Regions from separate parts of the Homo sapiens genome. Here all the other regions are linked to region 3. The links come from fine-mapping of genetic effects on gene expression. A gene starts in region 3. Each other region holds a variant in brackets. All regions are shown on one strand. Distances are from middle to middle.

Region 1 (5,094 bases), 75 kb before region 3:
GGCAGAAACAAAAAATTGCACATGACAAACAATCCTCTACCCTAGCGAAGATGCTTAGGAGTACAGATCTCAATTTTATTTAATCAATTAATTTTTAATTTTATTTATTTATTTATTTATTTATGTTTTGGAGACAAGGTTTCACTTTGTCACCTAGGCTGGAATGCAATGGCCTCAAGCCTCCCAAACCTCTGGGATTACAGATTTGAGCCATCGTGCCTGGTTAGGTCTCAGTCTTTGTTCACTTGCAAGTCAGCAGTTGAAACCTGAGACCACATCTCACCCCCAGACACACTGGAGCTTTCTAGAAGAAAATTCACTCCAGCACTTATTAATTCTGTCTTCTTTACTCTTCAAGTGCTGCAGAGTGAAAGAGATGCTGTCCCACTACCCACCTCCAGACCCAACTCTAGTGTCTCAAGCTAGAAGGTAATTTGGGGCATACTAGAAGCTCACCTTTGCTACTTTAATGCCATTCAGTTCCCAAAACATTCACTTTCATGTTCATCATCATTTCACCCTCTAAAAACATTTTCAAATTGTGCAGGTCAATCAGCTACAGCATCCTCATTCTTCACCACTATGAGCTACAATCTTTTTGTCATTTATCCAGGGTTGGGGAGCTCTAGGACCTTCTTTTCCTCTTTACCAAAAATCTTGACATCACTCCCATCCATTTGGACAACGTTAAGCTGCACGTAGTTCCATGGCCTCGTTTTCCCTACCACTAGCTCACCAAATCTCCAAATGGCTATACCTTGAAGCTTGATTTGGAGTGAATGGCTCCCCTTCTAAAATCTCAAACCCCCATGTCCCACTTTCTAACCACAATTTTATAATTTTCCCAGCTCTCACTCCTTTCCTCTTACTTCTAACATCCTTAAACAATGCATTCACTCTGTGTCTTTACCAGTCCCTCTGAGCTTCATTTTCATCTTCCCATGATTTTAGATACCTAACTGCTCTCTCCACAGCATCTTCGACTCCTTCAATGTGCAGCGCCTACCTTGCCCCTGCAGACTACCTGATCCTACCAGCTCCAAACTGCAGATTAGGTCATATTTGCCATGCTCAGCTCCTGGACCTGGGCTCTGAATGCTGCTGGAAAGGACAATGAAACTAAGGGGCCTGGTGCCCTACAGACATGTGGTTCTCAATATTATCTATTAACAACTCTGCTCAGTAACCTGAGAAACCCATTCTTCATAAACCCCCTTACTTTTTCTTCCTAGTTGTTTTTGCAAATTTTCACAGCTTTCCAAACACCGTATAACAACCTACCCTTTCACTCTCATCAAAATGCTTTCTTTCCACATTAAGAGAGATTATCATATGGTTACTTCCTCAAGGCATTCCCTTTATTCTGTCTCCCACCAACCACCTACAAGCTCATACTCCTCTCCTTGTACCCAGGAAGAAGGAATTATCTGTCCTTGTAATCTAAGATTAATCCATCTACTTGCTGCACAGAACTCATAAACCCACACTCCATTTGGGGCTTTGTTCTATTAATTTAATCTAACAATTTCACAATTTGAAATCTATCAAACATATGTAACTATGTGAGTGGGGAAAAAAACTAGCCACAAAGATATTAATGGTAGCATTATTTAAAATAAACAAATGTATTTGTTTTTAAGCCAAACTGCCAAAAATAGGATTATATGAACTACTGCACACAATATCTGCCCCCTCCCTTATTCGGAACCACTCAACATGAAGACAAGAACACTAAGTTCTCCTTCTAGAAAATAAAATGCGGCCAGGGGCGGTGGCTCACGCCTGTAATCCCGGTACTTTGGGAGGCCAAAGCGGGCGGATCACCTGAGTTCAAGAGTTCGAGACCAGCCTGGCCAATATGGCAAAACCCTGTCTCTACTAAAAACAGAAAAAATTAGCCAGGCGTGGTTGTGTGCACCTGTAATGCCAGCTAGTAGAAGGCTGAGGCAGGAGAATCACTTGAACCTGGGAGGCGGAGGTTGCAGTGAGCTGAGATCGCGCTATTGCACCCGGCCTGGGCAACAAGAATGAAATTCTACCTAAAAAAAAAAAAAAGAAGAAAAGAAAAGAAAACACATCTTTCTCACCTATGAAATAAATTACGTATTACCCTTTACTAAGGTAAAAGGATGAAGACTCTTGCCCAACAAACATTAAGTTAGTTTCTCAATAATATATTTTCCTATTTTCAAAACTTATTTTGGTAATTTTTTAAGTTATACTTTCAGCACGTGAAGTAACAGGATCAAAAGTAATGTTTTTGTTTGTTTGATTTTTAGGGAAGTGGCCAAGTCAGCAACTTCTACGCTTAAATATTACACTGTAAGTTAAATGTCTGGACTTCTAAGTAAGCTATTTTCTCAACAGGGAGGAACCTGAGAGAACTAAGTCTGACATTGATTAGTAACATTGATGCAAGCTTTATAATGGTATTTTTAAAAGCAAGTGAGAAAATGGTTTTTTTACACTACCTTAGTTCCATGCAAAAGACAACAACATATTTAAATAAAGCTGTGCTTCTCTCTTTTTCTTTACTCATGACTACAAATAAAAGGACAACAATACAATTCCAATAAAATATGAATAGTAGATAGAGCATGTCATCAAACACTAACACCTCGATTAAATTAATTATATAAATATTATTTCCATATTGCATCCCGAAAGTTTAATATCTGAGCTTTTCTTTACTGAACACTTTGTAACTATAACTAATTCAGTATTCTTTTGATAAATATTCACTAACATGTAGATGTTTTTACCTTCACTGTTTTATATCTAAGTTCAAGTTTTAAGTGGTCATAAAAAGTTTAAAGAGGCTATAAATGATCTGCACAGCATACCAAGACGGAAAAACTAAATACGACTGAATAACTCTATAGCTCAATTAAGGCTTTGTCATGGAAAGGGAACAAACACTACAAATATTTAGAAAGAACTTCGATAGTATGATACAACCCTCAGCATCTTAAATATTTAAGGCAAATAAAATAAGTTCTTTCCAAGTTAATTTCTTGTGGAATATCAAATATATAATCTTTTTTTTTTTTT[TC/C]TTTTGAGAAAAGGTCTCACTCTATTGCCCAGGCTGGAGAGCAGTGGCACAATCACGGTTCACTGCAGCCTCGACTTCCTGGCAACAAGTAATCCTCCCACCTCAGCCTCCCAAGTAGCTAGAACTACAGACCCAAGTCACCATGCCTTGCTAAGTTTGAAAAAATTTAGTGTAGAGATGAGGTCTCAGTATGTTGGTCAGGCTGGTCCCAAACTCTTGGCCTCAAGCACCTCCTAAAATGCTGGGATTACAGACATGAGCCGCCATGCCATGCTCAAACATAATTTTAATAGCACCTAAAGCCCCCGCAAGACCTTCCCTATCTATGCGTCTCATCTTTGTCTTGCCTCACTGTGCTCCAACTGTTCTCTCTATGCTCCACTGTTCTCTCTATGCTCCAACAAAAAAGACTCCTTTCAGTTCTTGAGCATGTTGTGTTCCCTCTGCCTGGAATTCTCTCTCCCCTCCTCCTTTTGACCTGGTTAACTCAGTCTCATCCTTCAGTTCTCAATTCAGATGTCATCTCCTAAGAAAAAACTTTGATGACCTTTCCCAGACTTGATCAGATCTTACTACGGAGCAGTTACACAGTTTGTAAATATGGCTGATTGTATGACTTATTAATATTTGCTTCCCCTGCTAAATCCATAGAGTAGAAGGCACCTGTTTTCTTCCCATTGTATTTCCAGCACCTACCATCTACCTAGCACATAGTGGGAACATTATAAATATACGTAGAATGAATGCTTACTAAAAATATATAAACCCAGGCCGGGCGCAGTAGCTCATGCCTGTAATCCCAGCACTTTGGGAGGCCAAGGTGGGTGGATCATGAGGTCAGGAGTTCAAGACCAGCCTGGCCAAGATGGTGAAACCCCGTCTCTACTAAAAATACCAAAATATTAGCCAGGCGTGGTGGTGGGTGCCTGTAATCCCAGCTACTCGGGAGGCTGAGGCAGAGAATTGCTTGAACCTCGGAGGTGGAGGTTGCAGTGAGCCGAGATCAGAGATCCAAGATCGTGCCACCTCACTCCAGCGTGGGTGACAGAGCAAGACTCCGTCTCAAAAAAAAAAAAAAAAAAAAATATATATATATATATATATATATGTATATACCCATTGATCTTCCAAGTCTGAATAACCTTCCTTACAAAATTATTGTGTAAATAAGAATTATTTTATAACCAGGAGAAAGAGCACAGACTTTAGTATATGATAGGCTTGAATTAAATTTTGCCTTTACAATATAAACCTCAGAAAATTAAATTGGCTAACTCCTTTCTGCTTATTTGGATTAATAATATCTACTCCCCTAGTGTTGTGAAGAGGATTACAAGGAAGATGAAATATGGAAGAATGCAGCTGATGTAGCGAGAGGAGATGATCAAAAAAATGATTTCTCAACTCCCTCCCCACCCCCATCCCCCCACAAAAAAAATTAACGAATGAGTAAAAGCAGAATAAATCTGTAATGGACATCCAAAGGCCTCCTCAATATCCATTCCACTCATTCCTCTCCTTCTTCATATGGAAGCCCTAAGGTTTTCATGAGGAGAATCCCTTCTCCCAGGTGGAGAGGAAGACTGAATGACTGGATAAGCCATCAGGATAACAGATCCCCCTGCAATGGAAGGAAAGGAGTTACCTAGCCTGTGTCCTACACTTTGGCCTCAATGGTTGTTGGTTCAGGGTGCTCCATTCAGAGTAGAGCTTGGGACTTTGATTCAATACCTGTGGGAAGTCTCTTGCTCCTCCTAGATGTGAATGAGGAAGCAGACAGCTCTGGTCTCTGCTGGTTAGCCTTCTCACACCCACTGGGAAGCCAGTCTAGGAATGTGCTTGATACAGAAAAATGTGGAGCTTAGAAAATGTCAGAGACAGAGGCAGAGCCCTGATGTAAACTAAGCCTACGTCTCATTATCAATAATAAATTTTTTATTACATGAACAAATAACTATCCTTTTTACTGTTTAAGCCAAGCTCGTCCAAGCCGTGGCCCACATGCAGTCCAGGATGGCTTTGAATGCAACTCAACACAAGTT
Region 2 (5,094 bases), 29 kb after region 3:
CATGGGAAAGAGAGACATCTATTATGAAATGACCACTAAGACATATGATTACATGACAAATGCAAAGTTCACGAATAAATAGTATGTATACTAGTATAGTGTACTTCTTTCTAAGAAAGAAACCATAACACATACAAGAATGGACAAGAAATTATTAACAATAGCTAACTTTGATGGTAAGACTGTAGGTAGTAAAAAGCCAGACCTTCGTTTCTCATTTTAAAACCAATGAGTTATTTAAATCTAACCCTACTGCATTCATTATCTTTATAATAAAATAAATATGTATAACAATGAAACATAGTTTTTAAGTATTTGGGATATAAATTAAACATTAATATATTACACCTCTTAAACTTTGTACTTTAGTATCCCAATTCTCTGTTAGAACTCTGAAAACTTCATCTTTCACAGTTTAGGTAATTCTTTGGTGTCTTATTTTGTTATTTTCTTGCCCTGAGATTAGCACTGTCAGATCTCCAAACTGCTAAGTTTTCCCTTTGGCAGATCAAATGCTTCTTCTTAAAAAAATTAATTTTTTAAAATGTATTTCGTAGGATTTTTGTGCTCTCTCTCCCTCTTTTTGTGCATATGTGTGTGTGTCTGATTAGTCTTTATTCTCTTAAAATAGTTAGTCCTGATAGACCTCTTTCTTCAAAATTTGTCTCAGTTCTTTGGCAGTTTGCTCTTAGCTTATAATTAAAGATCAATTTCTGACTTGTCTTGTTCTAGAAAACCTCAGTGGAAATTACAGAAAGCTGAATAGGATATTAATTAAAAACATAAACCTGGTGAAACCTGAACATAGAGGCTCCAATTCAAAGATGCTTCCAATAGTTGACATGGCCATTCATTCCTTAAAACCAGGTATTTTTCTTTCAAATTACATTACCTTTAATTCTGTAAATTGGATGTTATATAGTACCATGAAAACTGCTGTGAATAATTGTAATACTCATTGCTGAGTGATGTGACTTCTTCCTCAAGGCTATTTCTGAGGGAAATTGTACAATTAGATCTTTAGGTATTGTGACTTGTTTTGGAAATCATGGTGGCCCTCCAGGGAGCTAATGAATCTTTAAATATTTAGAGGTTCACATGAGACCCCTGACAGATATAAGCACATTAGCTCTGTAGTTAAGGGAACATTTAAAAACAGTAACATGAAATGTGTCAGACATAGAGGAAAGATGAAGAAGAAAGTAGAAGCTAATGCAAACAGAAAAGCTGCCAGCTCTCTATGGCACTCTATAGCTCTCTCTGTCAGTATTTGGTTGGCAATGTAGACATAGTGGATGAGTGCAATTACATATGTTAGGCTCATTCTGAAATGCAGGAGCCTTTTAAATTTTCATGTAGAAGCCTGACAAGCAAACTACATCTAGGATATACTTTGATAACTTTGAGTTGAGAGCTAAATTTTTTGAAGGTAAACCATCTCCCTGTTTTAAAGTAGTGTTTAAAATGATAAAAATCTTAATACGTCTGTAATATAAAATATTTAGATACAAATACTACAAATGCAAATGAATTTTTTTTTTTTTACTTCTGCATTCAACTTTTCTCTTCTCCCTTTAGGGAAAACACTTTTGTGTAAAGGCCTGCAAAATATATGTAGAGGTGTGTGTATGTTAAAAACATGTATACATATAATGCATAACCAAACAAATGAAATATCCTAAACATATGGACCTGAAAATTGCTTATAATAAATTTGGACTGAACATATGGGCATAAATGTGGTTCAGAAGTGTCCAGTTGAAGCAACTTCACTTTGTTAGGTCAACAAAAGTTGGGGACACCAAGATCTACTCCTCTGATTTTGTTCTAGCATTATCTTAATGGAAATGTTTACTGAAATGGAAATACCTGCAGTGGACATCGTGGTGGTACCTCAAGCATTCAGTGTTCCCTGATCTCACACACTCCTAACCAAATAATGAATTTCTCAGCTTCACAATGTTTAAGTGACATGAGTCCCATGCCCAATTCTTGGTCATTGTAATTGGTGCATGAAAGAGCATATGCCTTCTGCTAATCAAATCAGAATGAAGTACACCTTTTTCATTCCACGATTGAAGGGGGAAATGCCTTCTTTCCAAATGCAGCAGAGGAAGCACAAGGTACTAGGATTGGAAGTTGTCTACTCATGACATGATATTTTAAGCCATAGAATAAAACTGAGACCTAATGTCTTAGTCCTTTCAGATTGCTATACCAGAATATCACAGCCTGGATGGTTTATGAACAACATAAATTTATTTCTTACAGTTCTAGAGGCCAGGAAGTCCAAGATCTAGTTGTCAACAGATTCAGGGTCTAGTGAGGACTTGTTTCCTGTTTCATAGACCGCTGTCTTTTTGCTGTGTCCTCACATGGTGGAAGGG[A/G]CAAGGAAGTTCTCTAAGGTCTCTTTTATAAGAGCAATAATCCCATTCATGAGGGCTCTGTCCTCATGACCTAATCACCCCCCGAAGACCCACTGCCAAATATCATCATCACACTAGGGATTAGATTTAAATATACAAATTTTGGGGGGATACATTCAATCTATACCACTTAAGGTAGAGTGAAGAAACAGGGAAGACAAGAAACATTTATTTTGTGTCATTATTGAACTTCTGCATTAAACTATCTTGAGCCTATACTATTGTTCAAAATCTATTATACAAGCCAGTTTGAATTTTGCTTTTTATTGTTTGCAACCAAAATTAACCTAATAAATTAAAATGTACTATAATGTTAGATCGTAATTTGTCTGTACTAGTAGTATTTGCTAGAGTGTTTAGGGGAATACTTGCTTGTTAACTTTTTAGTAAATATAACACTCCATGTTCAAATACATTTGGAAAATACTGAACATTTCACACTTTTAGAGACTCAAATCAGGCAGCACATTTTTAAAAAATAAAAATAAAACCAAATAGCATTGCATTTGGAGAATGGTATAAAAAAAGAGAATTTGATAAACTGGAGTTACCAGAACTCAGTGGATACTATGTGTTAGACATTATTATAAGCCATTAAACATTTTACAAGCTTGATACCTGAGTTAAAAATTAATAACCCAAAGACTCATTGGAAGAGAAAAGATGACATATTTTTTATTATATTAACGACATAAAAATATCATAGCAATTAACCTCATTATATACAACAAATGAATGAACATAAATAATATTAAATAACTATTACAAAGTCTCTCTGATTAAACGTAGAAATAAATAGGCACTGCTTTTGACCAATAAATGGAGGACATACATTATTTTCAAATACCAAACAAAAAGATTCTAAATGTAAAGGTTTTAGGCCCAAAATATGTTAGTCAATTCATGACAGCAGAAATTCAGCAGGTCATATTTTTGGGGTAATGTAAATGGCAGTAGAAATCATGGACTAAAGTGTAACAAACAAGAAATATCTAGGCAGGTGGAAATTTTATTAAGATGTTTTAAATTAACTTCTGGACTAGAGCAAAACTTCAAACTAAAATTCATCAGGGAGTCAGGGAGGGTCAAATGAAGAAGCATGGGGATTGAGGCAAAAACCCTGAATTATACCAATATTATCTTTTTTTTTTTTTTTTTTTTTTTTGGAGACAGGATCTTGCTCTGTTACCCAGGCTGGAGGGCAGTGGTGTGATCATAGTTCACTGCAACTGCGACCTCCTAGGCTCAAGGGATCCTCCCACCTCAGCCTCTTGAGTATCTGGGACTACAGACCCTCATCACCACCACACCCATCTAATTTATTTATTTTTTGTAGAGATGAGGTCTCACTTTGTTGCTCAGGCTGACCAGTATTATCTTAATGTTACAGAAAAAAAGTAATTCTGGCCATATATAGGTATTATTCTTTGCAGTGGAATGTCATTTCAGAAATTTGTGCCAAACATAAAATTAGTTTTCTAGTAGTAAAAAGTAATTAAACTTTATAAATTATTATTACCCCTAGTATACTGGGGAATGGGCGTGTGTTCCAAATGAAAAAACTTGGGATATCTAATGAGAGGCTGTTTTCTGTAGCAGAAAATCTATGTAAAATGTTTTTTCCCACGTGTACACTGTTGATATTTGAGACAGCACATGTTAACACTTCAAGAAGTAAAATAAATGTGTTGATTATATCCACAGTTTTCATATTTATTAACTATATATTTCATTTTTAATGTAATGCCTATTGAAAAACCTGTAAATAGTTGTTGCTTAAAATTGAAAAATACTGCCTAAGATTTTTCTATATATTTTCATATTTCACTTTTCCTGTGAGTTTAGAATGAACACTTTTAGCTAAGACATTTGGGCCTCCAAATACTAAACCTCTTAGAATGTTGGTTTATTATTTGGTTTTTACCTAAATTATTTTCTGCTTATTCAAGAACCTGAGGTCTATCCAGTTACATTTTTATTTTTTTATTTTGAAACAAATTCTCCCTCTGTTGCCAAGGCTGGAGTGCATTGGCATGATCTCGGCTCACTGCAACCTCTGCCTCCCAGGTTCAAGTTATTCTCCTGCCTCAGCCTCCTGAGTAGCTGGGATTACAGGGGCATACCACCACGCCCAGCTAATTTTTGTATTTTTAGTAGAGATGGGGTTTCACCATGCTGGCCAGGCTGGTCTCAAACTCCTGACTTCAGGTGATCTGCCCGCCTCAGGATCCCAAAGTGCTGGGATTATAGGCATGAGCCACCATGCCTGGCTGTATCCAGTTACATTTTTAAGACTAGCCAGGCTTAATATATCTTTGGTCTTTAGCGCAATTCAATTTGTTGAATTTTGTCCATTGTACTTCATGTGACACAGAATATATCTTAATTTAAAAAGACATATGTTTGTTGAGCTATCTGTTACATTTGTATATCTTGGAATTTTAAAAAATATAAACCACAGAAGCCAATTATGGCTGACATTAACAATAAATAGGTTTACCACAGAAATAGTGGGGAACTTGTAGAACTGTTGAGAAGGCTAGAAAGCCAGATCAAAGCTAGGCAGCCAGGAAATGTACCCCAAACCATGCTGTAGAACTCATCCAGGGAGGAAACCACTGTCACCACCAGTAAGAAGTAACGCTGAAGCTGCAGAGAGCAACAGTTG
Region 3 (5,094 bases):
GGAAGAAAATCCTAACTCAACAAGTGAAGGTAGCAAGGCATAGTATTTGAATGGCTACCTTTCATTTTAACTCTACTTCCTAAATTCAAAATTGGATTTGGGTTTGTTTCAAGTTGTTCACAATTTACTAACGAAATGTGCATCTCTCATTCTTCCCCCAAAAGAAAGAAGTCATCCACTCCAGCTACATATAAGTCTCCAATTTCTATACGTGAAAACCGAAATACCACTCATTGAAAAAAAAATGTACAGAGAATTGGCAGGCTGCATGTTTATGTAAACCTTCAGAAAACATGGAAACACGCAGCCCCAACTCACCAGGAAAATCAACACTTCTGATCAAACTATTTTGTGACATTTTATGTCTTTTATACATTTCACTTCATATCCAGTATTCCAGTTTTGCACCGGCGTGCCTGTATCAACCCCAAATCGCCTGAGAGCAATCTAGTACTGTAGCAGAACAGTTTCAACATGAAGAGTTCTGCTCATTGCCTGTGGCGTGGTCCTCGAAACACCTGAATCAAACATTGATTCCCCTCCTCCTGCTATTTAAAACCGAGGGACGTCAGGCTTGGGTAGCAGGTAAAGAAAAGCCACAATAATCAAACAAACAAGCAACCAAAATACCCGAACACGGAACACGCTAAGAACAAAGGAAACACAAGAGTGTGAACAGGAAATGAAGCAACTCTATACACATAAATACCTTCTGGGGCCGCCAACGTAGGTAAAAGTAAAGGTGGAGTCAGAGTATCTGAAATCTGAAACAGAAAGTCCCGTCAAAAGCTACCCCTGGAGTGGATTTGTTTTAACCCCGATCAGGACTTGAGCCCCACATTCGGTGGTGTCAGGGGAGGCCTGGCCGGGCAGAAGGCAAGGGCTAGAGGGCGGCGAGGTCCCTCTGCGCCGCGTCCGAGGGGATGCGGCGCGCCCCCGACTGGGTGCAGCGGGAGGCCGCCCCCCGCAACAAGTGCCGGGTGCCATGGCAACAGCGGGAATTTCCCGATAGGGGAGGCCGGAAGCAGCCTCAGCCGGGCTCGCGGTAGCGAAAGCAAAATCCCGGGGGAGCAAAATGGACGAAAGGCGACCCCCAGGCAGGGGCGCTGGGTGCCTTGGGAATCCGAGGAATCCCTTCTCTTTGCCAGTCGGAGGGGACTAGAGGGAGCCGAAGGGGCCGGAGATGGGCCGAGCGCTGCCCCCCGGGGGTCCTCGGCGCCGGGCGCAGCTTACAAGCGCAGCGCAGCGCAGCAGGCTCCATTCCCGGCCGCCGCCGCTCAGCCCATTGCGCAAACCAACCCCGCTCTGCCGCCGCTGCTGGAACCCAGGAAGCGTGCTTGGAGGCTTCGGGCACTACGCGGGGCTGGAAATACCACGCACTGCCCCTTCGCCTAGACCCCCGCTCCGGCCACGCGGGCTCTGCCCTCAAAGCTGGTGGCTGCCTCAGACTTGGCGGTGGGGGAGGGGAAGGGGAGAGGCTGGCGCCCCCTCCCCCTTTTGGCTCCCGCGCTCGTTGCAGCAGCTGTTGCCAAATGAACCCCAGAATGGGGACGTGCAACCCTCCACCCCACCCCCAGCCACAGACGTCGCGGTCAGAAAACTGGGAAGGGGGCGCTGGGTCCGAGGTTCTGGAAAAGCAAGAACTCACCTGCAAACAGGCAGTCCTTCTCAGCTCTGGACTTCTGGATCACGACGTCGATATCCTTCTGAATTCGCTCTTGCCTTGAACACATCCCCATTAAATAAATCCCTGGAAAAGAAGCAGCCGCTATTTCCACCCCACCCCACCCCCCTCGCACGCTTCCAGCTTTCGTAAATATTCAGTTAAAAATGAAACCTCTGGCCGAGGCAGGGGCTGAAGGCGAAGTGGTTTCGGAAGTGATCCTGGGTGAGAGAAGAGGAGGAGGAGGAGGGGGAGGAGGAGGAGGAGGGGGAGGTCGGCTTTGCATTCCCAGATGTGACCGCCCAGCTGCTGCTCGCCGCTGCTGGATTCCAATTTCCTCCCCTTCTGACAATGGATGGTGATGACACCAAGTCTCACTTTCTCCCTCACCCGCCCGGACCAACGGCCGTGGGGGCCGAGGTGCCGGGGACAGCCAGAGAGCAATCACCGGCTGGGCGGCGGGCGCCGGCGAGGGGCGAGCCCCGCTCCGGCTCACGCGCGCACACCCCTCACGGCTCGCACGCCGGCCTTCCACACCCGCGCACACTCGCGCCCGCGGGCGGCGGCAGCCGTGCCCAGGCTGCTGCAGCGCCGCCCGCCCGCCGCAGACCCTCCGCGCCCGCCGCCTAGTCACCCCGCCGGCCGCGGGCTGCCGGGGCTCGCAGAGTATTAGCCATCCCGGGCGGGAGCCGCTTCTCCCCACACCGACCTCCACTCGCGCCGGGAGCTGAGCGGTCGTGAAGACTCCCTGGGGCTCCCAGCCTTCCCTCTCCGCGCCCCTCCCCCCATCACTTTTATGAATTCGACTCCACTTTCTAAAGGAATTATAGTCTTGTGGCAAACCCAAACCGGAGTGGCTGGGAGGGGGAAAAGGGGGGAAAAGAAAATCTTTAAAAATTAAAAAAATAATAAAACGAACAAATCTTTCCTTATTGCCACATCACATAACACGGAAAAGGCCTTAAAATTACTCCAGACGTGCACCCTCCCCTTCCCTCAGTGCCTGAGTCTTTTTCCTCCAGATCGAAGTAGTTCAGCCCTTTTGGGGCGCCGTTTACGAAACACAGCCCCTTTTGAGGGACTTCCTCCTCTTGAAACTCACCAGTTCTCCCTTCCTAGGTGTTTCTGTTCATGAGAAATGGTCAGAATCAACTGGCACGTTCCAGGGTCTTCCTAAAAGATGGAAACCTGTTTGGCTTGATTTTTAAAACCACCTCCTTTGACAGTCAAGGGAAAGCTACAATCCAGGTGTTCAGAAATGAGATACTGCTCTGATTCTCACTTTCTGTTCTGCCTAAGGACACCCCAGGCTGACGTAGCTGCCCCACCTCTATATTGGTTTATGCCCTAGGAGAGGTCTCCAGCAGGCACTTTTCTTGTTGATCTTTTCTCCACTGAGAAGGCTCCCGCCAGTAGACCATGACTCCTTTTGCTTTGCATACTCAGTGCCATGTACAGTGCCTGGAATACAGGAGGGTGGCCTAAATGTTGGCTGAATGCACGAATGGTCATTTCTTGCAGCCTCTTTTCATTACCCTGTCTCATCACTTTTCTTATCAGCATAAGTGCCCAAGAGTTGCCAAACTGTTTCAGACCCTTAATCAATTTAGTTCTGATTCTGACCGTGACAACATGATGTTCAGCACGGTAGGAATGACTGCCATCCCTGAAGGAGTCTTAAGATTCTGTAGAATCAATGAAAGATCCTATGTTCTAACTCCTTTATCTTTCAGGAAACAAATTACAAAATAATTTCCTTGTCCAGTCATATTCACTATGAGTTACAAAAGGAAACATTCTGCATTATTGAGATCCACTGCAGCCTTTGATGTAGTAAAGCCACAGTCACAACAGTCTATATCTCCTGCTCAGTCCTCTCCTGAAATGCTTCCTGTTTAGGGTAGGACAGGTTCAAGCCCTTTGTCCTTCCTGGATATGTTGCTTTGTGTAGGCCCTTTGGCTGCCAAAAATGCTCTCTTCTCTTCCACATCACCACTGAGAATCATGAGTATTTCTTCTTCCATTATGTGCTTTAATTTCTCTGAAAGGCTGAAAGTCTATTAACTCACAAGAATTTATTTTATAGTTATCTAGCCACAAGGCTTGCATCTTCCAAGTAGAACCCTTACTACAAATAAATGTGAAATAGTTTTAAAGCTACCAAATATTTTTTTGTCTGGATGAGCTCTTAGTTTACTACTCACTCCTTAAAATAGGCCTTCTTGTGACTTGTCCTATATTTGATTTTTTTTTAAGCTTCATGGGCTGCCCTGTTTTGGTTAAACAAAGCTAACCTCACCCTGTTCATGCCCTTAAGGTGTGATGTATTTAATAAATATTTGTACATTTGAAGGAGTAAGATTAAAAAATAAAAACCTATCTAGTATGTATTTCTGCAAGATAAATTTCTCTAATTAAAAACTATACCAACGTAGATCCTTCCAAGGATCTTCCAGGCTAGATCCTTATGGAGCACTTTGCTCAAAGTAAGTCAGCCCATATCCAGGATCCTTTCTTTACCTTGCCCCATCTCCGAATATTTAAATGTTTATATTATGTGTGCTCAACATACTTCCCTTATCAAAAACTATATGCGCCTTTGAGATGAAACAGTTCTATCTCTCCTTAAACACTCATGAGTATACAACATACACACACATGCATTCAGGAACGTGGCACATAAGAGGCCCTTCACCAATTTGTTAAATAAATAAAATCAATATTTACAGTGAGGGAGAACTCAGGTGGTATCCCAAACTAAATTGAAGATAATAATCTACATGTTGGATGATAGACTCTACTGAAAAAATTCCACCGGTTTAGAATAATGATTCAAAGCCACCAGATATAATTTATTAGTGAAAAATATAAATTTTTTGCCTGTGCCAAAAGGCCCAACTGCGGAAGTATAAGGTAATGGACATGCGGCATTAAGTTCAATAATGTGATGTGGGTATTAATAACTAACATTTATCCAGAACTTAATATTTATCCAGAACTTATCCAGAATTCATTAACATTTATCCAGAACTGGTAGAAACTGTTCTAAAAGCTTTACATATAGTTACTCATTTAATATTCACAATAACCCGTATATACTAGCTGTTATTTTTCTCATTTTACAAAAGAGGAAACAGGCTCAAAGGGGTTAATTCATCTAAGGTGAGACATGGACTACAAGAAGTTTTTTTCTCTCTTGAAACCTTTCAGCAATTGAATTGAACTTAAAGGAATAAATATGTACAGAAGCCACACGAGGAAGTAAACCGCCCCGCCAATGGCTGCAGGCCAGGAGTGAAGCCGACAAGAAGCCCTATGATGGATTTTGAGGAGGGCTGAAGCCTGTGGACTCTCAAAATAGCCTCTGCTAGTGGCAGTTATATTTCCCTTTCTTGCATTCAACTTCCTTTCCCAAATGACCCAGCCATTAG
Region 4 (5,094 bases), 110 kb after region 3:
TCTTTTTCAGTAAGAGTAATAAAAGCTTTGTGGAAATTTGGCCTGTTAAAAATTCTCATTTCTAGCCTTATTGTAAATATTAATATTTGTAAATATTTTTCTAGTTTATTATATTACTAAGTAAATCATACAGCATAATGTTTATATATTTGTGTTTTCTGTATAAATGATAGTATTATTAAAATTTAACAAGCTCTTCAGACTGTATATTTTATTAATATATTAGTTTATGTTTATTTCCAAGTTTAGCAACAGCCAATACTTGTGAAGAAATATAATATATTACCGTTTCTGACCAAGTTCTAATATTACAATTAAACATTAGTGAGAACAAAACAGAATCCTACAACTTGGAACAAATTCATTTCTCACTTATAGACTATTTCTAGGTAGAAAATTCCAAAACCCCCAAAACATTTAAGGGAAAAATACAGAAAATACATGTCAGGTTGCTAGAAACCATCAACTTATTATCATAAGACCTCTGCTTCTTTGTATAAAACTGTAAAAGATAGACTTGCATTTCATTCTTATTTGGTATGGAATAAAATATCATGAAAAACAGCAGTGATATTTTAGCATGCAAAAATACTCAGTAGCAATTCACGTGTTCAATATTCTTCTTACCCTCAGAAAATTAACCAGTACTGATTTCAGTTGTGTTTGTACCTGTAAACCGTGCTGAACAATGACTTCATGCTGTGCTTGTAAAGCAGCTATAAGTGAGACAGGATAATATATGTGAGCTTGATTTACATTTTGGCATTCAAGGGCACAAGATAAAGAATAACTGAGATTTGGACTATTGTGGGAAGTCTCCAGAGTGGTCAGTGATCAAGTAAAGTGAGGCTCAGGATTATTTTTTTATGCATGGTGAAGGGTGCAGCTGAATTGTGTCACTGCAGCAACATTTAATAAGTAAAGGTAAAGTCATTTGGTAAAGTACTGTATTAGATGTCAGATCAAATCTAAGATAGCCACTACCATGATGAGAGAGAGAGAGAAAGGTAATATTTTTTTTTTGCTCAAACTAGAGCTTTCTCAAATCTAAGGTTGCTTTCTCAATGTAGCCATTTAGAAAGCCATCTAGAATGTTCAGAGTTTAAAAAAACAGACAACTGACAGTTTTTTATTCCTCCCAATGCATTGTCTACAAAACTCACTCTCACTGTAAGTCATGTCAGATGAGACTGGGCGTGTTTGGGGTGGTGTGGCTATAGACTAGAAGTTCTGACAGTGCCCCACATAACAAATGTCTCCACAACTGAAGAATCACTATTAACTGAATTACTCGAACATCTATTCTTAGTTACAAGATTCCCAGGTACAATCTTCTATTTTGCTTTGGGAAAATAAGTGTTTTCCATGAGTATGTTCAACTGGCAAGTGAAAGAAAGGATCAATAATAACATACATATAGTAAAGTAGATACTTTTCTTTGACATGGCAGAATTTCATGAGGAGCTGAGGTTTTAGGATTAAGCTTTCAAAGTAAGTCTATTTTTGTTGTTAAATACGACTGTTAATACATTGTATGTGGTTTACAGAAATGCAAATGGATCTATTAAACATGATGGGTTTCTCTGCAATGGAGAAGTCTCTGCAGACAACATAACAGTCAGAGTTTCACATTAAAGTCAAGACCCAGGCATGATTATTTATATATTTAGCAAATAGTGAGTAACTGCTGGAATTGTTAGTATACCACAAGGGCCATGGAGAATAAAATCAGTCATGTTTCCTACTTTCATTGAACTCATAGTCTAATGGGAGAAGACAAATGTTAATAAAATAATTATAAAAATAAGCATGTAATTAACAATCTTGAGATAATGGAAGGGTGAGCATTTTAAGAATGTGAGAGTAGATGTGAATGAGCAGGTATGAGTTTTCTGAGGAACTAATGGTATGAACTGAGGTTTGAAGAATGAGTGGGAAGACCTAGGCAAGGAGAGGTGTCCTAAGGTGAGATAAATGCCAGTGCCCAGGACCTGGGGCAACAGAACATAAAGTATTCAAGAAGCTGAAAGTCCAGAGAGGCTGGAGCTCAGTGTGAAGGGTTGAGTGAAACCTGATGATTAACCAAGCAGGGAGAAGAGCTTGCAGGGTCTGGTAGCCCACATCAAGGGATTTTATCCTAAAACTCATAGGTAAATATTAAAGGGTTTTAAGGAGGAGAAGAGCATGGTCATATGCTGAAAAGATTTTTGTATCAGAATAGAGGAGTTGTCAGCTGTCAGTGTATCAGACTAGAGGCATCAGAGGGGTTGTCAATTGGCAGGGTGGAAAATAGTATTAAGTTGGTGCAAAAGTGATTGCCGTTTCTGCCGTACTATTAATGGC[G/A]AAAACTGCAGTTACTTTTACATCACTATATTACTTTGACTAGGGTGATGGCATTGGAAATGGAGAGATAAATGGATTTGGAATACATTTAGGAGGCATAGTTAATAGAGTTGGGGAAAAGATTCGGTATGAGAGCTGAAAGAAAGTACAAGGGGTGGGTGAAAAGAGACTCTTAGGTTCCTGGCTTGTGAAATTGGAGGGATGGTGGTGCCAATTACTAAGCTAGTGAATCCCGAAAGAGGACAAGATGGTAAGTTCAGCTTTTGCTTTTTGTTGTTTATTTATTTAGAGTTAAAGGATGACTTTGGGACAGGTTAAGTGGAGATATATAGAAGAAAAAAAGGATATGTTAATTTAAAGCAAAAAGATATCTATCCTGAAGGTGTAAATTTGGGAGTCAATACATGGAGATAGTAATTGAAGCCTTTGGCCTTAATAAATTGCTGAGAGAAAGCATATAGAGGAGAAAGAAATACCTGCTCTTGAAGTATTTAATATGTAGGTATAAGAGGATACATTTGAGAAAGAAATTGAGTAGTTACAGCCAGAATACAAGAAGAAGACAAGGAATGAACAGAAAACAATGAAGCCAGGGGAAGAAAGGAGCGGTCCACAGGTACAAAAGTTACAAGGAGCCGGGCACGGTGGCTCACGCCTGTAATCCCAGCACTTTGGGTGGCTGAGGAGGGTGGATCATGAGGTCAGGAGTTTGAGACCAGCCTGTCCAACATGGTGAAACCCCGTCTCTAATAAAAATACAAAAATTAGCCGGGCGTGGTGTTACGTGCCTGTAATCCCAGCTATTTGGGAATCTGAGGCAGGAGCATAGCTTGAACCTGGGAGGTGGAGGTTGCAGTGAGCCAAGTCCATGCCATTGCATTCCAGCTTGCGCAAAACTCTGTCTGCAAAAAAAAAAAAAAAAAAAAAAAAGTTATAAAGAGATTAATTAAAATGAGGTTGAAAAATTTGATGGGTTACAAACTTAACAGGGGAGAGAATGGGGATAGAGAAGGAAGTGGGTGGGGATGAAATGGAGACTCAATATTGGCCACTGGTTCAAGAAATTTGGCTGTGAAGAGGTAGGGGTAGAAGAATTTTAAGGGGTGAGGTTTTCTGTTTTGGGCCTTTATTTTTTGTAGTTTTTGTTTGTGTTTGTTTTATTCTGCTTGAATTGAAATACTGAGAAGCCATGGAGATATTTAAAAGCTGATGTGGTTGGGGCAAGGAATAAGGGTAATTGATAATGTCGGGCTTCTGAGAAGACAAAAGAGAAGTTGATCTGAAGTACCAGTGAAGACATTGGCCTTCCACAGGAAGAGGCTTAGTTTCTTTATTTTACTTTGAAGAGGGAGAAGAGGACTGTAGAAGGAGACAAGATTGCTGGATTTATTTGTGGGAAATTTAGGTAACTCCTATCTAATGGCTTTTTCTTTCTTTTGAATGAGGGAGAGGCCATAACCAGATGTTTGATGTTAGACATAGTTTCCTACCTTTAAAATGGAATATTTTGAGAATTAGTTGCGGCAATTAATGTGAAAGCACTGCAATGACAGGTTGTTGTTTACAGCACTCATTTCCGTTGTGGAAGTGCATGTTTAAATTTAGAGATTCTTAAATTCTTTTTAACAGACTTTTTTTTTGACATTATAGTCTTGTTTCCAAATCCTTTAGAATGGAAGCAATATTATCTAAAGATATTGTGAGAAAATAAGTATATGTAAAATATTCTATTTTGTTGAAAATTACAACATAAATTTTATATATTATTTTCATTTATTATTCATAAAAATGAAGGGATAGCAATCCTCATTCATAGGCATTAAATCAATCCCTTATGGCAGTTTATTTTTGTGTGGAAAGTTAATGGTGTCATGTAAAGTGCTTTAGAGTAACTCCAGTACAATAATTCCAAGTTCTATAAAATATCCATCACATTTACATGAAAACACCACAAGATGACCAGCGTCTTTATTCTGACATTCTTCCACTTCAGATCATTTTATATCCTTAGGACCAATATGTTCGTTTTGTTTTGTTTTGTTTTGTTTGCATTCTCTTGGAGACCAAGTTTGGTCAATTCTAACATGTGAGATGAAAAAGAAAATAGAACAAAAGAAGTGGCTCACTCTTGGCCAAATTATTTTAAAAATTGCATTCATATGTACCTGGAAAGATTTTTATAATTCATGTTTTAGAGCCACCCTTTAAATAGTTTTGTAATTCCTTTCCCAAAATATTTTTAGGGGCTACCTGTTTCTGTATAAATTTAGCAATGCTGCTCATTGCTATAATTATAGCAGCCCACTCCTATTATAATTTTATTATTTATATTATTTCAAAAGACACTACCAACAATTAAACACTTTACTCAGAAATATCATAATTAAAACAAGATTATAGAGTACTTCAGTCTTTGGGATGATCAGAATGTAGTGCAGTGTACTGAGAACTATTTATGAAGCCTATTGTAGCCGACTCTGCACTCTGCCCGTGTCACCTAAGCTCTTAGTATTGCAGTCCACACCAGTAGACTTCTAAGGACAGCATTTATGTGTCTTTGTCTGAGTGTTTTCTCTGGCAGCCTGAGGCCACTCTGCTGTTGCCAGTAGCAGGCTGGAAGTATGAGGAAATTTTCACCCTTCAGGAGCAGCACTCGACAGGATTTAAATACCCAGCTCCCTTGCCCCGCAGTCAGGACAAGGCTGAGGTACATTTTCTACTTGGCTCCCAAAACCCCAAGTGGTAACTTGC
Region 5 (5,094 bases), 48 kb after region 3:
AGCATTAGAGGTGAAGTATATCCATTTGCTCGATGGGAAAAGATTTTGTTTTATTTAATTTACATAATGTGATATGCTTGGCCACCTGGAGTAGTGCCTGAAAGGGGATGTAAAATGGAAAATGTAGTCAGTGAGACTGATTAATAACCATGGACAGAAAAATAGGCCAAGTGGAAAAACTTATTCACATAATTGTTTCATTTTGCTGACTGCAAAAGGATTTGTTTTGGAAGTGATTTCTGCTATTTAACCTAGTGGATTGATAGATCACAGAAAGGTCTTAGAAATTACATTATGTAATTTTGTTCATAACATGAAATTAGCTTGAATCAAAAAATGTATACCATGTTTTGTATCTACCTTCTAAGACATTTGTCTTGAGAAATTAATGATTCTACAACATAAACAGTCATTGTGAAAGGAAGTAAACAGATAACAGAGGGCTTTCATAATAATCATGGACTCAAGATTATCAAATTTTAAAAAGACATACCTCATTTTCCTTTATTTAAACATAAAACAAATGAGAGGAAACAGAAATAGCTCATAATTTTATTTATCTGATAAAACATGCTGACATAAAATATAATTCATGCACCCAGTAAGAAAATCAAAAAATTAAATAAAGGTAAAAATGAAATATAAAATTCTCCTTCCTCTAGTTTCTTACCCCCAGACATCTAGAATCTCTCCTTAAGATAATCACTGTTGACAATTTCTTGAGTATCTTTTTAAAAATGACCTTAATACACATCCCCCACATAGAATATAGATCTTAAACAAGTTAGAAAATAAAATTTTATCTTTTAGTATTACACAAAATGATGTTCAGAACTACGCTTTGTATTTTTTTTTTTTCTAGAGACGAGGTCTCACTGTGTTGTCCAGGTTGGTCTCAGACTTCTGGGCTCAAGCAATCCTCCCGCCTCAGTCTACAAAAGTGTTGGGATTACAAGCATGAGATAAAGTCTCGCCTGGCCTAGGCTTTCTATTTTTGTTTACTAATTTACCTTCAAGATATTCTTACTTTTAAAAACTGTATTGTGTAAATATATTTTTTATTTAAACAATAGGCTACGAATAACATTAATAACATATCTTGGTTTATGTATTTTACAAGATTCTCCATGTGATAAATTCCAACCCGCGAAGTTGCTATAGAGCATATGAATTTAACATTTTTTAATTGCTGTGACCTAATATGATCCTAAAACATGGCCCTAGTTTATATTCCTATGAGAATGTCTAATACCTACAATCTTGCTAACATTGACTGCTATTGCATTTTAAAGACTCATTACTTTGATTGGATTGATGTTGAACATCTTCTGTTAATCCTGGCCATTTGCATTTCTTTTTCTACCTATTAATCTCCCTATGTATAGTATTGCATTATTTGTCTTTTTTGTCTCATCGATCGACAAAGATTAAAGTTATTGGCAGTAGGGAAAATGGAGAAAAAAATCAAAATTCAAATACCGTACAGTACGACATTTTGGAGAATAATTTGATTCTATATATTGAAGTTTAAATTGTTTTTAATCTTTGACCCAGTTATTCTATTTCTAGTAATTTTTCTACCCGAATAATAATACAGGAAAAAAACCTTTTAGAGAATATTCTTATGTTTGTGATACAATATTTACAGGCAACATAAATTCTCATCCAGAGATCAGAGTAAATATTATATAGTATATCTGTAGAATGAAATGTACCTTGCTGTTTAAATGAATAAATTAGTTATTATCATAAAATAAATGTCATGTAAAGACATTTATTTTGTGATATATACAATTAGAAAAACAAGTTATTAAAAATAACATGATTTTTTGTAAAATGTTTTTATTTTGTTTTTAATTGACATAATAATTGCACGTGTTTATGGGGTGCAGTGTGATGTTTTAGTGCATGTGTACATTGCATAATGATCAAATTTAAAAATTAATTGTATTGATAGGAAAAGTGTTTGGATATTTGTATACCTAAATGCTAACAGTGATGATCTCTGGAATGTGGAACTGCTGGTAGTTTTTCCCTTTTTCTTTTAGATATTTTTGTACTTATTTTTAATAATAAACATATACTAATTTTATAATAAAAATAACAATGAAGTCCTTTCCATTTTGAAAAATTAATTCCAATAGAAAAATATTGTACTCGAGCCACTTTCCAGGGTTTTCTTATTCTTAGTGCTGGTATAAGGTACCAGTGATATTATATTTTCAGATACATTTGGCTTTTCTGCCTTATGGTTGAAGATGAGCTTAGGAAGTTTTGCTGCCTAATTTTTGGGCGTTTGAGCCAATGCTTGGTGCACAAAAAGCACCACATCAACTTTAAAGAGAATATTCTGCTTCGTTAGACTGTATTCCCTACTTTTTATAGTATTTATTAGCACCAGAACTCTGTGACTGTTTCCC[A/G]AAGAACAAGAGAGAAAGATAAAGGAAAGTGAGAAGCAACAAAACTAGATTTAATTAATACTCTGGCTTGTCAGCAGCTTTCATGAAAGATTTGTTTGTTGAAGAAGTTGAACCTATCAGCTTAAACAGGGATTAACTCTGCCAACTCTGACAGAGCATGGACAATTAAGAGTTTATTGGAAATTAATTGAAAATAATACAGTGTTGTGAGATGGGAGGAAGATGATTTAAAGGAAATTATGCCAAGTGTTTTGAATCAGCCAAGGATAAACAAATGCAGACTATCATTTGATGGAGGTATTTTAAACTGATAACATGATTCGAAGTATAAGAATGGCAAATTGTGAAGAATGAATAAAATTACAGAGATAAATAGCAAAAATGTGAAACTAAAATAAAGAGGAACAGTGAGTAAATGGGGTTAGCTGAGAATATGGTTTAACAGGGCATACTGTATTCATTTATGAAGAAATTTCAATCCTCAAAATGCTACTCGTCTTAGTCTGTGTAGGCTACTGTAACAAAATACCATAAGCTGAGTAACTTATAAACAACAGAAATTTCTTACAGTTATGCAGGCTGGGAAGTCCAATATCAAGGCACATTTATCATCTGGGGTGAGGTCCACCCTTCTGGCTCATAGATGGCAACTTCCTGCTATATCCCCATACTTTGGAAGGGGCCAATGAGCTCTCTGGGATCTCTTTTATAAGGGCACAAATCCCATTCACGAGAATCTTGTCCTCATGACCTAATCACCTCCCCAAGGCTCTACCTCCTAACACGAATACCCTGGGGGTTAGGATTTCAATATACAAATTCGGGGGGACATAAACATTCAGTCTGTGACACTGCCATTTCGTCAGTAAGAATTTTCATGAACTCACTATTAAGATTTATGTTTATGTTTTTTATGCTGATGTTCTCACTTTATAATATTGTTTGTCTGCATAGTTTAAAGAAAAGGACAATGCCCAGTTAGAATAGGAGGTGTCTTTTGTTGGCCAGCAAAATATTTTAAGACACCTTGAGTGTAAATACATAAAGATCATTAAGGTAATATCATTTTGTTCTTGTTCTAGATCCACATGTTTCACTCAAGATCCCAGAGAGAAAACGTATGAAAACACATTAGAAGACAATAAACATCCTTACAATGCTAGCCAATGTTTATTATTGCTTTCTATGTGTGAGGAATTGTGTTAAGCACTTAAAAAGATGTCATCACTCATAATTATCATAACACCTGAAGAAGTAGGTGGTGTGATTTTCTCCAATTTAGATATTATAGGAACTGAAACAACTTGCCCACTAAACAGGCAATTGAAAGAGATAGGATTTCTATAGAAAATTCCCAGATCCACAGGTAGTGTTCCTATTCACATCATCAGTGTTCCCTTAGTGGTTTTGATATTACACCTAATACTATTTACTACACAATTAAAGCATCCACCCTATCATGGGATTTACTCTCAAGAATAGAGCACTGAGCGTGATAAATAGTATCCACTTTGGAATGCATGTTTCTATCCAGCTACTTAATATGATATAAGTTCATTGGACATTAAGGCCAGATTTCTTGACATGCTTTACCCTCAAATTAACAAGTTTGGCTCATTCAATTGTGGACCTTTAACCCTTAGGCCAGATAGTATATGAGTCCTAGAGTAGTGGAAAAAGGTAACTGAATTTACAAAATTTGACTCATCAAATTCTGTAATAATTCAATATATTGAGGAAACTTTAGGTGCATAGTAAAATTATAATTTCATATTGTTGCACAGACTCAGGCAGATGAAAGAGACTCCAATAGTGCTCATGTAGCACCCAGACAGTCAGTTGATCGTCTCTGTGCTGAAAGGATTTAAGAGTGAAGAATTTGCTCCAATGTATTTTTCAATATCTCATTGTTTTAAAATAATATTTGAAATAATACCTAGGAATCCAACTTACAAGGGATGTGAAGGACCTCTTCAAGGAGAAATACAAACCACTGCTCAAGGAAATGAAAGAGGACACAAACAAATGGAAGAACATTCCATGCTCATGGATAGGAAGAATCAATATCATGAAAATGGCCATACTGCCCAAGGTAATTTATAGATTCAATGCCATCCCCATGAAGCTACCAATGACTTTCTTCACAGAATTAGAAAAAACTACTTTAAAGTTCATATGGAACCAAAAAAAGAGCCTGCACTGCCAAGTCAATCCTAAGCAAAAAGAACAAAGCTGGAGGCATCATGTTACCTGACTTCAAACTATACTACAAGGCTACAGTAACCAAAACAGCATTGTACTGGTACCAAAACAGAGATATAGATCAATGGAACAGAACAGAGACCTCAGAAATAATACCACACATCTACAACCATCTGATCTTTGACAAACCTGACAAAAACAAGCAATGGGGAAAGGATTCCCTATTTAATAAATGGTGCTGGGAAAACTGGCTAGCCATATGTAGAAAGCTGAAACTGGATCTTACACCTTATACAAAAATTCATTCAAGATGGATTAAAGACTTGAATGTTAGACCTAAAACCATAAAAACCCTAGAAGAAAACCTAGGCAATACCATTCAGGACATAGGCATGGGCAAGGACTTCATATCTAAAACACCAAAAGCAATGGCAACTAAAGCCAAAATTGACAAATGGGATCTAATTAAACT
Region 6 (5,000 bases), 93 kb after region 3:
TACAGAAAAGTGTGTTAAGACTTATAAGAGGCTGGGTGTTGTGGTGCACACCTATAATCCCAGTACTCTGGGAGGCTGAGGTGGGTGGATCACTTGAGGTCAGGAGTTTGAGACCAGACTGGCCAACATGGCGAAACTTCGTATCTACTAAAAATACAAAAATTCACTGGGCATGGTGGCAGGCACCTATAATTCCAGCGACTCAAGAGACTGAAGCAGGGGAATCACTTGAACCTGGGAGGTGGAGGTTGCAGTGAGCAGAGATCATGCCACTGTACTCCAGCCTGGGTGACAGAGTGAGACTCTGTCACACACACACACACACACACACACACACACACAACTTATAAAGGAAAATATTTTTTAAATACTTGAAATAATTATACTATGAAGAAATATGATTTACTTGTCATAAAGAGCAAATGTTTACACTAAGAAGAGAAAAAATTTCGCTAAACTTTTGTGACATGAACAGACAAACCTGAATTTTTAAAAGATATTCACAAATAAAATATAAGCTAGTTGATTTAGAAAAGGTGACTGCCAAGAATTAGATATGAGCTTTGGCATGTGAGATTGTTGATAAAATTACATTCAATTCATGAAAATGGAAATTTCATATCACTCAGATTAGTAGATAATTTGTAAGTATTCTTTGAATGCTAACTGCATACACAATAATGTGCAAGTTTACCTTTCAGAAGGAAAAAATTTATTGGTTATTTATAATGATACATCCAAAGGTAATCATAAAAATAAAATAAAATAGCATTGACTAATTTTATAAACACTGAAGGAAAACAAAATAGAAGAGTAACCATGGCAAGAGCTAAATGGAACACAATTCTTCCTGATGGCTTAAAACACTTTCTTTTGTGTACTTTCATTTTCTTATTTGCAATGGATTCCTTAGGTATTCATAAAACGTGTTTACAACCTTCCTGGTTTGATATGAGGTTAACTCCTTTATCATGGAATTTTAATATTAATGATAGTTTTGGAAAATACTTCTCTGAAAAGTTATTTTGAGAAGAAAGACTTTCTATGTATAAATATCTAAAACCAGCAATTATAGTGGATCTCAGGGGAAGTTTGAGATCTTTTTCTTCAGAGTAGCTAAAGAGCCTTTCAGCAGCATATCCAAAGAGCCTTTCAGCAGCATGTCTCTGGGGACTGCATTGAGGAGCTGAAATTTCCCTGGAGAATATAATAAGAATAAAGACAAAATTTTTATTTTGGCTTCGGAAGTGACAATACTTCCTTCTGGAGTTTAGAGAATTCAACTTGAATTTAAAGTCGGCCATTTCTTCCCTAACAACGCTTGGATTGCTAAAGGGAGAACAAGTAGAAAGAATACTGAGACATCATAAATATAGCAAAATAAAACAACAACATTTTTTTCTCTCCCACCACCAAATTTTCATTATCATCACAAATATTTAGTATGTTTTTTCTTTTTAAGAAAATCTTTTTTCTTTTTTTTTTTTTTTGGTTTATATCATTAAATATACTGAGTTTTTTTTCATTTTTACTTTCCATGCTCCATTCTATCACAAAAGTTGGCAACAAATAGAACTGGGCTGAATCCATCATTTATAAATAATGGTAGTGATAAAAATAATTTTCGTTTGAATAGTTCTTTACAGTTTTTGAAGTACTTAGCTCTATCTTGTCTCATTTCACAAAATCCTTTGAGGTATGTACGACACTTGATCCAATATCCTTTTGACCTATGAGGAGATCAAGGCACAGATTTGTTGGTGACAAGTTAAAAATCAAGATGATTTTTACTCATTAGGACGAGTAAGCCTCTGGTTCCTAGCCTCAAGTTCTGAACCACAGTTCTGAGCCACAGGCTATCCTACGATGCTCCTTCTGTGCCTGGGGCCTCCTATGGCAGGTGTTTAGCTAGAAATTCTGGGCCTTTTATTTATTTATTTTTTTTTT[G/T]AGACGGAGTCTCGCTCTGTCGCCCAGGCTGGAGTGCAGTGGCGGGATCTCGGCTCACTGCAAGCTCCGCCTCCCGGGTTCACGCCATTCTCCTGCCTCAGCCTCCCAAGTAGCTAGGACTACAGGCGCCCGCCACTACGCCCGGCTATTTTTTGTAGTTTTAGTAGAGACGGGGTTTCACCGTTTTAGCCGGGATGGTCTCGATCTCCTGACCTCGTGATCCGCCCGCCTCGGCCTCCCAAAGTGCTGGGATTACAGGCGTGAGCCACCGCGCCCGGCCTCTGGGCCTTTTATTAAATGAATCTGAAAAGAACATCTTTACATCTACTAAATATGAAATAAAGTTATGTTGAGACCTGAAAAATCCAGGTGCTACATGGGAGACTGAGTGAGATGTAGCTACAATTAAGGCATGCCTGACTCTGCCCTTTTCCCACTGCCTTCTGAGTAGACTAGAGAAATACAACTAATTGATCTTAACTAAATAATTAATTTTGAGCAAGAGTTACTTTTCACGGGCTTAGGACTCTCAGCTGAAATGAAGACTACAAATACAGCACCTAGTATAATAGCTGAGTAGATATCCTCAGTTGAATTATGTCCTCTGATTCTATGACTTCCAGATTCGCCTCTTGGGAGCTTTCTAGTTTCCAGGCCTCCAAACCTTGCTACGGCTCCTTGTGGATAGACCAATGCCCTAATTTCCCTTTTTTTTTTTTAGTTTGCTTTGTTTTCCCAGGGAAAAGAGAAGGAAAATTTCCTATCTTGAAGCAGCGTATGATCTAAAGTAGCAGCTCTCAATCCTGACTTTTAAAAATATACTCACATCTGGGTTCTATTCCAGAGATTCTGATTTAATTGTGCCCAAGCAACAATATTTTTCAAAGCCCTCAAATGATTTTAGTATGTAGTTTCCTATCTATTCCCAGTAAATCATAATATAATAGCTATATTTTAGAGAGGCTCCAAAGAAAACATCACAGGGTAATGCAACACTACATGCATTTAAAACTTTAAAAGAACACAGATGAAGAAGACATAAATACTGAGAAAATGCCAATTTTGAAAAGGGATTCAGGGTTGTAATGGGATTATTAATGCAATGGGTTTTTAATTGAGTGGGGTCCACTGTTCTCATTGTCTCAAACTAAAAAGAAGAAGACTTTACAAATTGTGTTTTTTTATTTTTAATTTATGTGGGTACGTAGTAGGTGTGTATATTTATGGGCTACATGAGATATTTTGGTACAGGCATCCAATACAAAACAATCAAGTCATAAATTAGGTATTCATCTTCTCAAGCATTTATCCTTTGTGTTACAAACAATCCAATTATACTCTTTCAGTTATTTTAAAATACACAGTTGATTTTATCATTGACTATATTTCCCCTGTTGTGTTGTCAAATATAGCTTATTCTATTTTCTTTGTACACATTAAACATCCTCACTTCACCTTCAACTTCCCCACAATTCCCCAACTACCTTTACCAGCCTCTGGTAACCATCCTTCTATTCTCTATCTCCATGAGTTCAATTGTTTTCATTTTTAGATCCCACAAATAAATAAGAACATGTGATCTTAGTCCTTCTGTGCCTGGCTTATTTCACTTAACATAACGACCTACAGTTCCAACCGTGTTGTTGCAAATGACAGGATCTCATTCTTTGTTATGACTGAACAGTACTCCATTGTGTATATGTACCACATTTTCATTATCCATTCATCTGTTGGTAGACATTTAGGTTGCTTTCACATCTTGGTTATTGTAAACAGTGCTGTAACAAACATAGGAGTGCAGGTAGCTCTTCAATATACTGATTTCCTTTCTTTTGGGTACATACCCAGAAGTGAGATTGCTGGATCATATGGTGGCTCTATTTTTGTTATTTGAGGAACCCCCAAACTGTTCTTCATAGTGGTTGCACTAGTTTACATTCCCACAAAAAGTGTATGAGGGTTCCCTTTTCTCCATATCCTCGCCAGCATTTGTGATTGCCTGACATTTGAATAAAAGCCATTTTAACTGGAGTGAGATGATGTCTCATTGCAGTTTTGATTTGAACATCCCTGATTGTTAGTGATGTTGAACATCTCAATATATGCCTGTATTCAGATATTTCAGACATTCTTTTGAGAAATGTCTATTCAAATCTTTTGCCCATATTTTAATTGAATTATTAGTTTTTTTTCTTATACAGTTGTTTGGGCTCCTTATATGTTATGGTTATTAATCCCTTGTCAAATGGGTAGTTTGCAAATATTTTCTCCCATTCTGTGGGTTGTCTTTTCACTTTGTTGATTGTATACTTTTGTGTGCAGAAGCTTTTTAACTTGATGTGATCCCATTTGTTCATTTTTGCTTTGGTTGCCTGTGCTTGTGGGGTATTACTCAAGAAAATTTTGCCCAGACCAATGTCCTAAAGAGTTTCCCCAAAGTTTTCTTATAGTAGTTTCATAGATTTAAGTCTTTAATCCATTTTGATTTGATTTTTGTATATGGCAAGAGATAGAGGCCTAGTTTCATTCTTCTGCATATGAATATCCAGTTTTCCCAACACCATTTACTGAAGAGACTGTCTTTTCCCCAGTGTGTGTTCTTGGCACCTTTGTCAAAAATAAATTCACTGTAAGTGTGTGGATTTGTTTCTGGGTTTTCTATTCTGTTCCATTGGCCTATGTGTCTATTTTTATGCCTGTACCATGCTGTTTTGGTTAACATACCTCTGTAGTATAATTTGAAGTCAGGTACTGTGATTCCTCCAGTTTTGTTCTTTTTGCTGTGGATAGCTTTGACTACTCTGTGTCATCTGTGATTCCATATAAATTTTAGGATTGCTTTTTCTATTTCTGTAAAGAATGTCATTGGTATTGTGACAGGGGTTTCAATGAATCTGTAGATTCAATGAAATGAATCTACAAAAAAATGGAATATCTTTCCATTTTTGTGTGTCCTCCTCAATTTTTTTCATTAGTGTTTTATAATTTCATTGTAAAGATCTTTTATTTCTTTGGTTAATTCCTAGATATTTAATTTTGTTTGTGTCTACTGT

Which allele goes with the higher level. Positions count from the first base shown, and alleles are read on the strand shown. Sizes are in standard deviations (SD) of each study's normalised expression. Not every link is listed here.
As copies of C replace TC in region 1, the expression in T cells of the gene that starts at base 2,198 in region 3 goes up (small effect, 0.36 SD a copy in GENCORD).

The links. PIP is the estimated chance that this variant, and not a neighbour inherited with it, causes the effect.
Region 1: its variant is the best candidate, but not a certain one, in a credible set for the expression of PARP8 in T cells (GENCORD, PIP 0.53).
Region 2: its variant is the best candidate, but not a certain one, in a credible set for the expression of PARP8 in whole blood (TOPMed, PIP 0.53).
Region 4: its variant is the best candidate, but not a certain one, in a credible set for the expression of PARP8 in whole blood (INTERVAL, PIP 0.56).
Region 5: its variant is the best candidate, but not a certain one, in a credible set for the expression of PARP8 in whole blood (TOPMed, PIP 0.60).
Region 6: its variant is the best candidate, but not a certain one, in a credible set for the expression of PARP8 in whole blood (INTERVAL, PIP 0.61).

Annotation. Positions count from the first base shown.
Region 1 is chr5:50,738,776-50,743,869 of GRCh38, reverse strand. The region is part of intron 2 of PARP8 (poly(ADP-ribose) polymerase family member 8); the gene reads right to left. Among named protein-coding and RNA genes, the nearest start is that of PARP8, 75 kb to the right of the region's middle. The variant TC/C (reference allele first, on the strand shown) is at 3,052.
Region 2 is chr5:50,635,028-50,640,121 of GRCh38, reverse strand. No RefSeq gene overlaps it. Among named protein-coding and RNA genes, the nearest start is that of PARP8, 29 kb to the left of the region's middle. The variant A/G (reference allele first, on the strand shown) is at 2,388.
Region 3 is chr5:50,663,741-50,668,834 of GRCh38, reverse strand. PARP8 (poly(ADP-ribose) polymerase family member 8) reads right to left here and starts at 2,198. Exons shown (of 26, transcript NM_024615.4): 1 at 1,649-2,198; 2 at 710-764. The coding sequence starts at 1,739. RefSeq lists silencers at 1,074-1,403, 2,096-2,155, 2,206-2,355 and enhancers at 376-1,575, 1,011-1,923.
Region 4 is chr5:50,553,672-50,558,765 of GRCh38, reverse strand. No RefSeq gene overlaps it. Among named protein-coding and RNA genes, the nearest start is that of PARP8, 110 kb to the left of the region's middle. The variant G/A (reference allele first, on the strand shown) is at 2,344.
Region 5 is chr5:50,615,249-50,620,342 of GRCh38, reverse strand. No RefSeq gene overlaps it. Among named protein-coding and RNA genes, the nearest start is that of PARP8, 49 kb to the left of the region's middle. The variant A/G (reference allele first, on the strand shown) is at 2,421.
Region 6 is chr5:50,570,480-50,575,479 of GRCh38, reverse strand. No RefSeq gene overlaps it. Among named protein-coding and RNA genes, the nearest start is that of PARP8, 94 kb to the left of the region's middle. The variant G/T (reference allele first, on the strand shown) is at 1,948.